3 linked regions of the Homo sapiens genome follow. The protein of the gene in region 2 interacts with the protein of the main gene of each other region in a pairwise test. Each region holds a gene or a part of one and is shown on either strand. Other genes may lie near its edges.

Region 1 (3,463 bases), about 25 Mb from region 2:
TAACCTATCCGTCTGCCGTTTGCTCCACCCACTCTACCCCTCACCCATCCACTCACCCATGATTTGAATGACTCATTTACCCAATCATTCATACACAGTATCCAACCATCTCCACACCTGACCCCCTTCCTTTATCCGCCTCCCAGACCCATGGCCTCCGTGACATGAGGAGGGCCTAGGAAGATGCTCTCACTGTGGGATTGGGAGGTTGCCAGGGGTGGAATCCATGCTTCATTGAGAAGCAGGTGCTGCCTATAACAATGGTGAATACCTTTTATCGAATGCCTTTAACTATGGGTCCTCTCACTGTGTAGGGAACTTTACGTCCATTTCACAGATAAGAAAACGGGCTCTTAAGAGAATGAAGGTCTAAGGTCACACAGCTGGTGAGAACTTGTGTACATGGCCCTCTCCATGAGACTTCTAATTAGGGGAGAATTTGGGAGAGATGAATAGGGCTTGCGGGGCAAATGCCTAAGAATTGGCAATTCTTAGTGGGCAAAGAAACCACCAATTTCACTGAAATCAAGATTTTACTGGGCAACTTCATACTGCCAGAGTGGTTGGGACCAGCAGCTCCACTCCCCACTGTAGGCCAAGTAGGGCTAAGGCAAAGTCAGACACCCCCCCTAAGATGGCTATCTCTCTGCTCCCAGACCACGTGTGATGAGGCAGGATGGGCAGCTCAGGTGGTGTCTCCATTGAGGCAGGGTGCTTTGAGGGGCTGGGGTTGACTCCAAGACCCCCGCGTCCTTGGAGAAAGCTGCAGGCTCTGGACAGCATCCCTCAGCTGAGCCTGAGTTCTCTCCATCTCATTTAGGCGGTGCTCCTGGGGAGGCAGTGGTGATGGGGTTCAGAAACCAGGAGAGGGCTGCACCGCAACCCTTGCTCCTCCACCGCCCAGACCTGCCCCAGGGCTCAGATGGCAATCTCACCAGGTTTTTCAGACTGTGCCCTTCATTGCTTGTTAGGTTGTGCTCTGAATCAAACTCTGAGCTCCTGTGGGGGTCGGGGGATTGGGGCGAAGGGCAGAGGCTAAGGAAGTCCCTTCCAGCTCCTGGTGGGAGTGCCAGGGACTCCGGGGGCGGAGCTTGGAGTGGAGGCGGAGCTTGTCCAGACTGAGGGGCGGGGCCTAAATATGCTTGAAGAAGGGTCGGACCAGAGACGGGAATGGTTGGAATGACAGGACCTATCAATCATCCCTTGGAGGTGGGGTTTGGCCAGTCCTGGGTGGGGTCGTGACTGAGCTGGAGGGAGTGCCCAGGCTGAGATATCTCAGTGCCCGGCCCAGCCAGGTTGGGAGGGGCTGATGGAGGGGTGGGGCCTGGATGAGAGAATCTGCCAGGGTCCTAGGCCGACCTTCGTTGGGTGGGTCCACCTGGGGGCGGGGCTTGCCAAGAGGCAGGGCCTGGACAGACTTATTGGGGCGGGGCCAGGGTGGGGCTTGGCCGTGCTAGGCGTGGTTTGGGGGGGGGGGGGAGGGCCTGGTCAGATCTAATTGGATCGGGCCCACCTGGGGGCGGAGCTAATGGAGAGGGCTGGGCTCACCCAGCACGGAGCCTGGAGTCCAGATCCTGCAGCTGGCCCCGCAGCTGCTCCTGCTGCTCCGTCAAGGCCCGGATTTGGGTGCTCAGCGACTCCACGAGGCGGGACAGCACTTTCTGCTCCTCACGCAGAGCGGCCACCTCGCACTGCAGCTCTGCCAACTGTGGTGGGAGAGCAGCTGTAATCTGACCCGTTGTCCCGCCCCTGTGTCTCCCCGGAGACCCTGACCTCCCAGGCCCAAGCGCTCAGCGTCATCACCGGCCTGCCTAGTTGGGGAACATCCCTCCTGCGGTACAGCTGGGGAGACTGAAGCTCAGAGAGGGTCGGGCTAGGCCTGGGGTCACACAGCACAGCGAGCTGGGTACTTGAACCCAGACTTGCCTGGCCCTTCAGTCTTCCCCAGTCGCGTCCCTGTTCCCACTCCCCAGGCGCGGACCTGGGCCTGACCTTACCTTGTTCACAGGTCGGTGCGTGCCCAGTGCCTGGTTTCGGTCTTGCGGCTGGTCCATTTGGCGCTGCCAGGGTACCGACGGCTTCCGAGGCAGCGAGGCGGAGTCCCGGGTCCAAGGCCGGGCGCGGGGCGCTGGTCCCATGCTCAGGGAGCCTTTGGGTCGCGGCCAGGGCCCCGCAGATTGGCGGCGGCGGGCAGGACGCCGGACCGGGACACTCTGCGTGCGCTGCACCGGCCGGGGCCGCCGCAGGGGCCGCTCTTCGTCCGGCCGTGGCCGGGCCCAACTCTCTGAGCGGCGAACGCTGCGCAGAGACTGGCTCTTGGAGATGAGAGGGGTGTGCTTGGGGAGGTCCCGGGGGGCCAGGAAGCCGGGCTTCTCCCCTGCGGAGAGGCTAGGGGTGGGATGGAGGATCTTAGACCCTCCACTGGCCCCTGAGACGACCCCATCCCGACCTGACCAGAAGTGACCTCACCCCCCACGTGAACTTGTCCTTTCTTTTTTTTTTTTGAGACAAGGTCTTGCTCTGTCGCCCAGGCTGGAGTGCAGTGGCTAGATCATAGCTCACTGCAGCCTTGAATTCTGGAGCTCAAGCTATTCCCCAGCCTCAGCCTCCCAAATATCTAGGACTACCAGCACATGCCACTATACCCAGGTAATTTTTTTTTTTTTTGGTAGAGATGGGGTCTCCCTATGTTGCCCAGGCTTGTCTTAAGTTCCTGGCCTCAAGTGATCCTCCTGCCTCAGCCTCCCAAAGTGCTGGGATTACAGGCATGAGCCACTGAGCCTGGCTCCTGTCCTTGACTTCTGACTATAATACTGTCCTCTCTATGACCCTTGACATCTCTCCACCCTAACCTCTCCTCTCATCCCCGACCTCAAACACACTGTGACCTTTGACCCAACCCTTTCTATAACCTGTGATTCCCGTCTGACCCTGGGCTTGACCTCTGCTCACAATGATCCAACTTCACCTCTGACCCCTGTCTGAGCCCTGCTCCTTCCTGTTCCCACCCATCAGACCCCAGACCAGACTTGAGGTTACCTGGAGTGGACCTGGGCCGGGGGCAGTGGGAGACGCATTGGCACTGACACAAGCACAGGCTGGCCCTCCTCAATGGCTCGCAGGATGGTGGGCAGTGGTTCCAGGGTGTCTCGGGTTGTCTGGTGAGGCATGCAGGACAGAGACTGAGCAAAGTCTCCAGGGTCAGAGTCTCCCAAGCCTTCTTGCCTCCCTACTCTGGGTTCAGGCCATACCTGGTCAAGCTCAGCAAAAATTGTACAGAGCTGGGCATGCAGGACAGCTAACTGGAGGGCCAGATCACCACTGCCCTGGTAACCACTGGGGGCAGCATCCACATCCACCATGGCTACCTGGTCCAGGAAGCATTGCATGGCTGGTCCATGTTCCTCCAGGAAGCTATTCATGAAGCCCATGTAGGCCTCCTTCTCACCGAACCTGGATCAGG
Region 2 (4,729 bases):
AGTCTCAAACCCAGACCGCCACTCCTACCACCCACACGCCCCATGATTTCAGCAGCACCAAGTTTCCTGTATTAAATTCCTTTCTGTTTGAACTACCTACTGTGGTTTCTCTGGGGCCATTGCTACAACAGGCTGCACTTTTGAGAAGAGTAAAAAAAAGGTGAAGAAACACCTCTCCCTGAACACTCTTGTCATCTGTTAGAAAAGTGGTGGCATAAACTTGTAAGCCTACAAAGTGAATGGTGTGCCCTTAAAAGGTGCCATTCTTGTGCAGTACCCATCCTGCCTAACTGTACGCGGCAGCCCTGACTTTCCATTTCCTGACCCAGGATTCCATTTCCTGCTGTGAATTGGGACAACATACAAAACTGCCAAAGTAGTCATTGTAACCTGAGTTTGAACAATATTACTACACTATCCTATGTTTCCCCAAGGTTGCAAACCTCAAAATGCCAAGAGGTCCAAAAACCCAGGATGTGCTGCTGAGGTGGAGGGAAAGGAACCATGAAGAGCAAGAAAATCAGACAGACAAATGATTGTGAAAAACCAAACCTCAAAAAGCCACTTTAATTCCGGCCTAACAGCGCCAGGTGCAATGTCTGGGGACAGACTCTGGGTACAATGCTGTGTGGCGACCACTCACTCACACACGGCTCCAAGAAGGCCCCCAAGGGGGGACTTACCTTCAGGGGGCTGAGCCAAGGGGGAAAGGGGTGGCCCCAGAACAGGGGAAGGGGCAGGCATGGGGGGAAAAGGTGCTACTTCTTGGCAAAGGAGATCTTCATGGCGTTGTTCTGCGTGATCTTAAAGCCCTGCAGGGCATCGCGAGCTGCCCCTGCCTGTACCTCATTGTCAAACTCCACGAAGGCGATGTCATGCCGCCCGGGTACCAGACGGACCTCCTTGAAGCCAGGGAACCTGAAAGAGAACGACAGACCTCAGGGACTCAGCATTTCCCCCTAACGTAACGGCATCAAGTGGACAGAGGCCAGAAATGATGCCAAATAGCCTCCAATGCACAGGGCAGGGCCCCATTACTCAGAATTATCCAGCCCAAAATGCAGATAGTACTAAGTTGAAAAACTCTAATGTAAACATAGCATTTAATGAAAAATTTAAACACAAACACCCATGCAACTGCAACCTAAATCAAGAAACAGTACACCGCAGTCTCCTGGGCCCTTCCTAAATCATAACCCACCCGCCACACCAAAAAAATAACCAATACCCTCACTTTTTCCATTTTTATTCTTGTATTTTTAGGAGAGAAGGGGTTTCACCAAGTTGCCCACATTGGCCTCGAACTCCTGACCTCAAGTGATCCACCTGCCTCAGCCTCCCAACATACTGGGATTTTAGGCGTGAGCCACCGCACCCGGCCTTACCCTCACTTTTCTGATATGCTGTTTCTCTAATTTCCCTCTTCTCATTCCATACTTCTTTCTCCATTAAGCAGCCATCCTCATGTTTACTAGGTATCCTTTTTTCCATCGGCATTCTCACAAAATATACAGCTTTGTGGACAGGCTGCACATGTGGTATTGTTTTTCTGTATTTTTCAGGTTCTCACAATCTTCTCTCGGCACTATTATAAAGTTGCGCTTTCTGTTCTTCTAAGTGCCACGCAGTGCAGCATGGTGAGATGCTGCATGTAGCCATCCCTTCTCCCAGACACCCTCCAACTCCCCACCACAAACACTGACGAATGCCCCACTCACAGCCCCTGAAACAGAACCACCAGATGAACTCACCCACACCCACGACTTCACTCAACAATGGTGAACAGCCCCTCTACACATCGGCTGCACCGGCCTCCACCCTGACGCCAGGCACAAGAGTTTCACGCATCCCCATCTCCCACACTTGCTGTTTCTGAGCACGCTGACTTCTGCCAGTCTTAGCCAATGTTCAAGGACATCTCAATGCAGTTTTACACATACCTTGCCTTGCATGCCCCCATTTTAGGGGCTGGGAAAATGAGGCCCAGAGCCTGGACTCCCTCAGCCCTCAAACAAGGCTGAAAAAAGCCGGCAAGCCCTGGCCATGGAGACCTTTCCAGCCTCACCCCCATGTCCCCCACAGGCCGTGGGCCCAGCCACAGCCTCCTCCTTTCACATCTTTGGTCGCTGTCCCTTCTGCAAAGCCCTACTTGGCTCAGAGCTCTGCTGGCAGAGTTCTGAGGCCTGTTTCCATGGAGATGCCTCCTGGCCATCACCCTCCAGGGACCACCCAGCCACAGGCCCCACTTACTGATTGAAAAGCATGGACAGCATGAGCTCGTTGGTCTCCTCTGGCAGGTTGGTGAGGAACAAGATGTGATTCGGTGGATTCTCAGAAAGCTGCGGGGGTATAGGGGAGTCGGTGAGCACAAGAGCCCTGAGTCCAGTGGGAGACCCATAGTACTGCCACTTCCTCCATCCCTCACCCTGCTTGAATTCACTCTGGTACTTCCACCCAACATACCACATATTGTTGTCTGTTGCCTGTCTGCCTCCCACCTCTTTGCCCCTACAGACTATAGGCCACAGGACAGCAGAGGTTTCTATCTCAGTCCCTGCTGCAGCCCTACAGTGCAGAACGGGGCCTGGCACGTAAGGAGGCGCTCAATAGCTCATGGAATCAATCTAGGTGCTGGCACCACTCCAGCCTACCCTAACCTTCCGTACCCTCCAACCAGCATGCCAATTCCTCTGCCCAGGGCCCACCCCCACTGCTACTTCCTCATTCAGTACCACCTCCTCAGGGGGCCTGCCCAGACCACCCAACCTACAGCAGCCCCCCAACTGGTCCCTTTCTAGTCCTGTATTCTCACTATTTATATGAGACCTGGTGGGTGGGACTAGATACTCACAGGCTGGGCAGGGGGCATCTGTCCTGGCATAAGCTGCTGCGGGGGCATGGCCCCTGGTGGGATCTGGCCAGGTGCAAGGCCTGGCGGGGGGATCATACCAGGGGGCGGCATGTAGGGCGGCTGGCCCGGCATGTGGTGCATAATGCGGGGCGCCTGAGTCATCGGCGGCATGCCCTGTGGAGAGAGGGAGGAGAGTGCGTGGTTACAGCAGCCCCAGGAGGCAGAGAAGAGGCCATGAAAGGAAACCTAGCGGGTGAGAGATGTAAGGAAAAACACCCAGAAAGAGGCGCAAAAGGCACCCAAAGAGGGCCCGACAGAGCAAAACAAACCCAGGGTCTAGTGGGACATTAAATCAGAAAGAGTTAAATGCTATTTGTGAGGCTGAGGTAGGAGGATCACTTGAGCACAGGAGGTCAAGACTGCATGCAGTGAGCTCTGATTGTGCCACAGCACTCCAGCCTGGGAGGCAGAGCAAGACCCTGTCTCTTAAACAAAATCAAAGGAGAGGAAGAGATGGAAAGGGACAGTCAGGGCAGGTGCAGAAAGAAATGTGTGGTAGGCCGGGCACGATGGCTCACGCCTATAATCCTAACACTTTGGGAGGCCGAGGCAGGCGGATCGCCTGAGGTTAGGAGTTTGAGACCAGCCTGGGCAACATGGTGAAACCCCGCCCCTACCAAAAATACAAATATTAGCCAGGCGTGGTGGTGGGCACCTGTAATCCCGGCTACTAGAGTGGCTGAGGCAGGAGAATCACTTGAACCCGGCAACAGAAGGTTGGAGTGAGCCGAGATCACACCACTGCACTCCAGCCTGGGCAACAGAGTAAGTCTCTGTCTCAAAAAACAAAAACAAAAACAAAGGAGGGCAGTGATGGAAAGGGACACTCAGGGCAGGTGCAGAACAAAACGCGTGGCAGCAAGGGGAAGAGGGAAGACAACAGATGGCAGGCAGCACACTCAGGGGCTGGAATCACAATCTGAAGTCCAAAGTGGACAGAAAACTAGGTGCAGGGAAGAGGAGAGAGGTTAACAGGAGCCCACAGTAATCCAGACACCATCACCAACTTGGAGAAAGTGTGAGTGGCACCGAATAGAGCATGACCCAGTCAGAGCCATGAGACTCATGAAAGCCAGAGAGACACGGAGGCTCAGAGACCTAAGGAGTGGGCCTGGTTCATCCATCTTTTCTTTTGTACTCGGTGCTTTTTGTATCCTGTTTGGAAAACAGGATGTTTCCACTTTTCATGCCCTCACCAAGGTCATTTAGACATTTTCCTGTTTTCTTCTAGAAACTTTATTGTGTGAGGGCCGGGTGCAGTGGCTCACGCTTGTAATCCCAGCACTTCGGGAGGGTGAGGAGGGCGGATCACTTGAGGTCAGGAGTTCGAGACCAGCCTGGCCAACATGGTGAAACCCCATCTCTACTAAAAATACAAAAATTAGCTGGGTGTGGTGGCACATGCCTGTAGTCCCAGATCCTCGGGAGGCAGGGGCAGGAGACTCGCTTGAACCCAGGAAGCGCAGGTTGCAGAGAGCTGAGATCACACCACTGCACTCCAGCCTGGACTACAGAGCGAGGCTCTGTCTCAAAAAAAAAAAAAAAAAAAAAAAAAAGAAAAAGAAAAAGAAAAGAAAAGAGAAAAGAAACTATATTTTGTGAGTTGTCACATTTGGATCTGCAATTCACTTCAAGTTATATTTTGCATATAGTATGAGGTAGGGCTAATTTTTTCCCCTTGCAGATACCCAACTGCCCCGCATCATGAACTAGGGGAAAAAAAGTCCTTTCCTCAGTGAAGTGCAGTGGTACCTCGATCACACATCAAGTAATTATACAAGTGTAGCTGTACCTAGACTCTTCATCCTGTCCCCTTGG
Region 3 (7,042 bases), about 14 Mb from region 2:
GCATCCCCTTGCTGTGACAAGCGAAAACCTCTCTTGACATTGCCCAGCGTCGCCTGGGCACCTCAATCACCAGACAGAACCATGCGTCTAAACATGAGTCAAGCAACTCATCCCCACCCACAGCAAGCCAGGCGCAATGTCTAGTGAACGAAGGACACTGCAGGGGCATGGCCTGACCAGGGGCCTCTGGCACCGCGCCCAGTGTGGCCTCAACACAGGTGTCTCCCTAAGCGTTTCTGGTGCTCTCAAAGGAGCTGAGTGGGACTGGGCCTTGTCCTGGTAGACCAGAGGCTGTCTAGATGGTCTCTATGGTGGGAGCACAGCGACAAGCTGAGAAAGCAGAGACCTCAGGGTTCTGAGGAAGCCCAGGGCAAGGAGTGAACTAGGGGGTCCAGGCAGGAGAGAACAGGAGGAAGAGACACACAGATGGGGTGGAGAAGAGGCCCCAGAGGCAGTGAGCTGGGAACAGTGGGGAGAGGGAGAGGAGTGACCCGGAACACAGAGGTGACCAACAAGGAGAGCAAGAGGAACTGGAGAGGGGAGGGCTGAATGGAGAAAGATGATGGGGAAGCAAGGACCAGGACAAGGGTTGGGGGCTGGGGGAGGCCTGCGGCCAGGAGCTGGTCTGAGGGGCGGTGCGAGGCGGAAGGATGGGAAGAGCAAAGGCAGAAGGGAGCTTGGCACCACATACGTTTTGATCATGGCCTTGAGGGCGACCTTGCGCTCCCGATCTGCAAACTTGTCCACGAGGTAGCCAGACATGCAGGGTGCATGGCAGTAGAGCCGGAAAAAGCGGTGGTAGTTGCCCAGGGCCCAGGCTGTCCTTAATGCCAAGGCGTGGGCCACGCAAGGATCTGCCTTCAGTTCTCGTGTGAGGTATGCCAGCTCCGTGGTGATGTCTAGCACCAAGACAAAGAGGGTGAAGTCAGCAGGGCTCAACCCTGGGTACCATGGCCTCTGTCCTGGGGACTGGGCCTCACCTCCCGAGTTCTTGGTGAAGATGTAGTAGAGGATTCGGTAGGCAGTAAACTCGCCCACATTGCCAGGCAAGTTCTCGGCGTACAGCGACTTGAGCTGCGTCTGGCACTGGTTAAACTCTTCATGGTCACCCTGGAAGGCAGAGGCACCGAGGGAGGAGAGCAGAGTGAGGGTGCTGAGGGCAGAACGGCAGCAGGAAAGGGGCTGGGGAGGCCCGCAGAGGCCAGCTCACCTTCTCCAAGGCGATCCGGGCATGGGTCTCGTACACCTCCACCGTGAACTCGGTGCGGATGCCCTGCACCTGGGGCAGCGGGGCGAGAACAAGAGTCACAAGGAGCGGGAGGCAGGACTGGCTGAGGCCAGGCCCCTCCCAGCGCGAGTCTCACCGTCAGATCCTGCCGGATCGACTTCATCTGCTCGCAGGCAAACGCGTAGTCCTGCTTCTCTTTCCAGTGGCACTTGACCATGCACAGCGACTTTTTCAAAACCTGAAAAAGGGAACTGAATTCACACTCGGAGTACAACTCAGGTAGCGTGGCCAACGGCTTCCACTTATTTGGTGGGAGAGTTGCAACATTAAAAAAAGAAAAAAAAGGCCAGGCGCAGTGGCTCACGCCTGTAATCCCAGCACTTTGGGAGGCCGAGGTGTGTGGATCATCTGAGGTCAGGAGTTTGAGACCAACCTGGCCAACATGGTGAAACCCCGTCTCTACTAAAAATACAAAAATCAGCCAGGCGTAGTGGCAGACGCCTGTAATCCCAGCCACTAGGGAGGCTGAGGCAGGAGAATCGCTTGAAGCCGGGGAGCGGAGGCTGCGGTGAGCCAAGATCACGCCATTGCACTCCAGCTTGGGCGACAGAGCCAGACTCTCTCCCAAAAAAAGAGAAAACAAACCCACAAGACATGGGTTAAGAGTGGCCACCTCCACACCCATTTCCCTATAAGCACATGGCTGTTCACAGGTTCTGCAGCAGAACAGTGACTACGCCAAACACTGGAAACACAGCCCCCCACGCCCCACAGCCCACGGGCCTGGGAGAAGGCTTTATGCTCCGTGTCACCTAAGCCAGGAACCACGGCCCAGAGGTCAAGCGATTCGCCGGCCAAGCTGCACACCCGCCACGCGGGGCTCCAGGGCAGCAGAGCGCCTTTGCGCTCCTCTCAGAATGCCGACCAGCCGAGGCGTCTCTGGCCGAGCTTCCCCTGCCATACCAGAGCCCCCGTGTGGCCTCTGCCACCCTCCCTGGGTTGGCTCCCCAAGTCCTGAGCCAGCACGGCCTCACAGAGCAGAACTGCCCTGCTGGGCACTTACTGCCACAGGGCGCACGGTGGACGGGTCGGGGGCACAGGTGAGGCGCAGGTAGTGCTTGGTGATGTCAGGGCAGGTGCCCACGATCTGCAGCTCCTGCCAGTCAGGGTCAGCCCCACTGCTCTCCAGGCTGCTCATCTGCAGCACCAGGGGCTCGAGGCGCAGGCGGCGGGAGTGTCCGTGCTGGAAGCGGGCTGCCCGCTTCTGCTTCTTCAGCTCTCGCTCCGGGTCCTCACACTCCAGCGCCGCCATCTTCTTTCGACTGCGCTTGGTGGGCGCCAGATCGTGCCTAGGAAGGGATGAGGGGCAGTGAGCGCGACAGGCGTCTCCAGCCCCCCTTCAGCCTCGCCCCTTTGGCAGCTGGCTGTCCACCTGTCCGGCCCTCCTCCTCCTTCTCCCATGGGTCCCCAGTACCCTCCTCCACCCTGGCCCGTGTGTCGAGCCCTCACACAGTCTCACCTCTTCCCACGCTGCGCCCTGCCTCGGCCCCGATCCATATGGGCCCCTCGACCGCCCCGGCCCTTAGGGGGCGGGTTCCTGCGGCCCACAGGGTGACACTCATTCCCTGAGTAGGAGCTGTCGGAGTCTGAGTGGGAGTCACTGCAGGAAGAAGCAGGAGGGTCAGGCCTGAAACGCCTCCCCCTCCCTCACACACAGCCCCAGCCGGGAGCCTCAGTACCTTCTGCGGAAGTGGCGCGTCGGGGACCTGGAGGAGGAGCGGGAGCGGGAGTCTGTGCTGGAAGAAGAGCTGTTGTCCTTCATGAAGACGTTGCGGTTGCCAAACTTGGTGAAGCTGTTGCCCCGGGCTCGACCGGCACCCCCAGCCCCGGGCGTCCCTCGCTGGGACGGGGCACCCCCGCCCCTTGTCGCCGAGCCTGCCCCTCTAGGAGGGTGAAGGCTGCTAGCGGCCTCCCACCGCTTCTTCTTAGGGCTCTCAGCCACAGGCTCCCGGGTCAGCCTGAGAATACAGCAGGGCAGGGCGTCACCAACCCCGCCAGACACTGGCAGGACAGCCGCCACCACCTCCCTCAAGGTACCGACCCGCCTCCGAAAGGAAAGGCACTTACCCCAGGCGGCTCAGCTACTACAGTGCAGAAATGAGACGCGAACCCAGGTTTTCCGTCTCCAGAGGGTGCGCTTAACCACTGAGCAATGCACGCCTCTCCAGCACCCATGGTCCCCACCCCACCCCACCGGCCTCCCTCCAACCAGGACTTCATCCCCCCAGGATCCAACTTTCCAGTTCATTTCTCTTTGGAGCTCCTGGTACCTGGGACCCGCAACTCTCCTACCTCCATACCCAGCCCATGCCTCTCACAGCACCACCCTCCCACCTATGTCCCCCACCCAGACTAACCCCGGCAAGGGCTCCCGGCTCCAGTCAATGGTATAGGCCGAGCCGTCCTGCAGCCGCGCCTGCAGCACCTCCTTGAGCAGCTTTTCCGTGCGGTCCTTGTCCTCCTCCGACTCACAGGCGGTGAAGCAGCGCTCCACATACTCTTTCATGTCCTGGGGCCAGTCATCCGGCTTCCCAGACAGGTTCCCCCGGGCAGAGGACCCGCTGCGGGAGGACAGATGAGGGGCTCAGCTGGAGACGATCCCAAACTCAAAAGACCATCCCCACCGCCACTCTGAGCTGACACAGCGGGACGCAGTCCCCAAGTTTTCCTTCTGTCTCCTTCAGTGCTCACAGCAACCCCCAAGAGAGGGTCCTTCTGCCCTTTTCAGAGGCGCACACTGAGGCTCAGGGTGGGCAGCTGGCCAGTGGGACTGGACCATAGACGCTGAGTGCAGAGTGTGGGGCTGCGACGGGGCAAGGGGGCAGACGTCACCTGTGGTTCTGAACTTTCTCAGGGTTGGGCTGGGGGCCAAAACCACTGTGCTGGCCCTCTGCGTTGGAGCCAAAGCTCTGGGTGGTAACAGCAAAGGGTCGCTTCTGGATGTTGAACTTGAGACCTCCAGTCCCAGGGGCGGCTGTGAGGGCAGCGAAAGCTATGGTTAGGCCCTTCCCCGGCACATCCAGGGGTCCCCAGGGGACGGGAGGAAGTGGAAATGCAGGGAGGAGCGCTCAGGTTCTAGAGGAGGGCTCCAGCACACATGTGCCTGGTCCAGAGCAGCCCCACCCCCAGCCTGGCGATCACAACACCCAGAAACAAGGAGCAGCACACACCACGGGCCTCACACCCAGGAGCTCTTATGAGGGCCCAACCGCTCGGACCTCCACGTAGCTCTGCCAACTTACGTTTCATGCGGTTCCACAGCTGTTGGCCCTTCTTGGGCTTGGCAGGTTCGGTGTAGGTGTGTGGCCCATAGGCCTGGCCCGTGGCGGGCCCCGCCTGGCTGTGCTGTGTGGCTGGAGCTGTCCCAGGCTGAGGGCCACTGTTCAGCGTGTGAGCCCCATGTGGGGGATTTGAGGGCTGAGGGGGCTGAGCCGACGGCAGCTGCTGAGGGGGAGCCTGGTAGGACATGCTCTCATCCATGCCGGGGACTGGGGGCTGCAGAAGGAAGCAGGCGCTGAGCACGGGAGGCAGATTCTGGGGCTGGCGAGTGGCACTCAGCCCTCGCTGTGAGGACGCAGTGGTCACAGCACTCAGCACTCAACCCTCCCGTGACCTTCCCAAATGTGAGTTCATTCGAGTCCTCAGTAACTCTGTGAGGTTAACATTTGTTAACAGCCCTTTTCACAGCTGACAAGGCTCCAGCTCAGAGACTAAGCGACTTCCCAGGGCCCTAAGCTATGAAGCGGCAGCTGGCAGCGTTTCAATGCTGGAGTAACAGCCACCGACAACACACCCACTCCAGCGCTACCATCTGAGCACAAGACACCCATGAGCACACACACTCATGGAGCCCAAGGATGAGGCTACCATCCTTCCCGCTTTCGAGAGCTGACCGAGATGCGTAATTACACCAGGGGTGGGACAGCTGGGATTCAAACCCAGGTCTACCTGCCTCCTGTGCACTAGCCCGGCCATTCCTCCAAGCTGCACATTCAATGCAAAACCCAGCCGGTGTGTGCACGCCTGTGGGTGACCATGCTAGGGAAAAAGATGAGATGTCTTTCAACATCTCAGCCCTGGCCTTGGCTCAGCCTTAAACCCACCCCAGGTTCAAACACTATGCTCTGTCCTCCTCATTTTCAGATCAGGAGTTGCTTGGAAGGAAAAAAGCAGCTTAAGGAGTACAAGCCATTCCTCATTGACAGCTCATTCAAAAATCTACACTTCCTCTGCTTGAGCAGGGTATGGGAGCTGGGCTAGGATGTTACCTGGTTCAGAGTCCCTTGGTGTTGGGGTGCGGATGGCTGCTGGGGTGTGGCTGAGCCATAGGAGCCGGCCATCCCATACTGGGAAGGGGAGCCATAGCTCTGGTACATGCTCTGCAAAGGCGCAGGGAGGGAGGGTTTAGTGGGAGGCCTACCCTTTCCGCTTCCCCAGCCTGCTCAGGAACTACACCAGCCATGACCCTCTACCAATCCCTCACCCCTTTCTCTCTTCACTATATTAATGCACCACATCCTCTCATATATTAGGAAAAGAAAAACCTCTATCAATCCCACATCTCACTTAGCTAGTTCTCGGAAGAATATAATCAACGATACTGAGTGCCAACTCTTCTAAGCACTACGACAGAACAAAAGGAAAACCCATGCTGTAATGAAGCTTGTGCTGGAATTACATGTCCGGCTGGAGACATCAACATGTAATACATCCAGCAATAAGGATCATGAAACAATAAGATGGCAAAGAAAGGGAGAGGGACAGGCTGCGAGGCAGGAATGCTACTTTCAATCAGTGTGTCAGGTAGAGGCTCTCTGAAGGCGGCATCTGAGCAGAGACCTCCAAGAGGCGGCAACACAGGGAGCACTGCAGCCAGGGCAAAGCGAGAGCGGGCCTGGCGGGTGCGGGCATCAAGGAGGTCTCTGCTTCGATGGCCATGGCAGAATGAGCATGAGGAGAGAAGGGACCAGAACCGGGTATGTAGGACCTTGTGGCTCATGGCGGGGACCTAGGAATTTACCTCCTGGGCAAGTTAGAGGGTTTCTGAGCAGTTATCACTGCGATCTCCAGTCCATCCACCACCCAGCCCCATCCCGGCAGACTCCACTTCACCTCGCCCCGACCCAGCAGACTCCACCTCGCCCTGCCCCGCCCCACTGGCTGGGCACTCACCATGGGATAGTAGTAGCTGTAGGGGTAGGCATAGTTGTACTGCTGGTACCACTGGTAGTACTGCTGCTGCTGCAAAGCTGAGGCTTCTGCCTGGGACACGTACTGTGGAAGCAGAGGCACATGTGCCGTCAGCAGCCCAAATCCACAGGCACACGGCCCCCAAAGGGCAAGCCTGTTTACTGGTGGCCAATTGCCAAGGGATGAAACTGGGTCCATGTATCTGCAAAGTGAGCCACTGTCTCTACCATGAGACTCACGCACGTTAGAGACCAGGGGCATGGGCATGGCCTCCCTCTTCAGAACCACATCACGCCCTAATTTCCTCAAGGAAACAGAACTTTTTCCCGTTCAGATTTAGATACCCTGGAACGTCTTTTCATGTTTCCCCTCAGAGCACCCCGTCTGAATGATACAACAGGACGCCAGACTGTGTCCCTCCCACAACCTCTGGCTCAGGGTACCCCAGCCCCATGAGGCCTTCTCACCTGTGCACTGGCCACAGGCCCATTGCTGCTGGACTTGGCAGAGCCGCCGGCAGCTCCTGACTTGCTGATGCTGGCCAGGGCCTGACGGGCCTTCTCC

The links. The genes of interacting proteins can lie anywhere in the genome.
Region 1: the proteins of SNRPA (region 2) and RASAL3 interact in binary tests that used the Homo sapiens proteins (3 or more experiments, as listed by UniProt).
Region 3: the proteins of SNRPA (region 2) and LENG8 interact in binary tests that used the Homo sapiens proteins (3 or more experiments, as listed by UniProt).

The regions. Positions count from the first base shown.
Region 1 is NC_000019.10:15,451,110-15,454,572, forward strand, and holds the end of RASAL3 (RAS protein activator like-3), read right to left. Parts: intron 3,454-3,463; coding exon 3,252-3,453; intron 3,159-3,251; coding exon 3,040-3,158; intron 2,389-3,039; coding exon 1,998-2,388; intron 1,707-1,997; coding exon 1,549-1,706; intron 1,142-1,548; coding exon of another isoform or gene 1,036-1,141; exon of another isoform or gene 1,000-1,035; coding exon 936-999; intron 830-935; coding exon 686-829; 3' UTR 515-685; downstream 1-514. UniProt on the Homo sapiens protein: Functions as a Ras GTPase-activating protein. Plays an important role in the expansion and functions of natural killer T (NKT) cells in the liver by negatively regulating RAS activity and the down-stream ERK signaling pathway.
Region 2 is NC_000019.10:40,761,197-40,765,925, reverse strand, and holds the end of SNRPA (U1 small nuclear ribonucleoprotein A), read right to left. Parts: intron 3,026-4,729; coding exon 2,852-3,025; intron 2,340-2,851; coding exon 2,251-2,339; intron 919-2,250; coding exon 759-918; 3' UTR 537-758; downstream 1-536. UniProt on the Homo sapiens protein: Component of the spliceosomal U1 snRNP, which is essential for recognition of the pre-mRNA 5' splice-site and the subsequent assembly of the spliceosome. U1 snRNP is the first snRNP to interact with pre-mRNA.
Region 3 is NC_000019.10:54,452,171-54,459,212, reverse strand, and holds part of LENG8 (leukocyte receptor cluster member 8), read right to left. Parts: coding exon 6,946-7,042; intron 6,563-6,945; coding exon 6,461-6,562; intron 5,668-6,460; coding exon 5,557-5,667; intron 4,784-5,556; coding exon 4,531-4,783; intron 4,263-4,530; coding exon 4,121-4,262; intron 3,850-4,120; coding exon 3,646-3,849; intron 3,247-3,645; coding exon 2,968-3,246; intron 2,889-2,967; coding exon 2,748-2,888; intron 2,578-2,747; coding exon 2,292-2,577; intron 1,467-2,291; coding exon 1,365-1,466; intron 1,280-1,364; coding exon 1,211-1,279; intron 1,111-1,210; coding exon 981-1,110; intron 900-980; coding exon 692-899; coding exon of another isoform or gene 307-691; exon of another isoform or gene 1-306.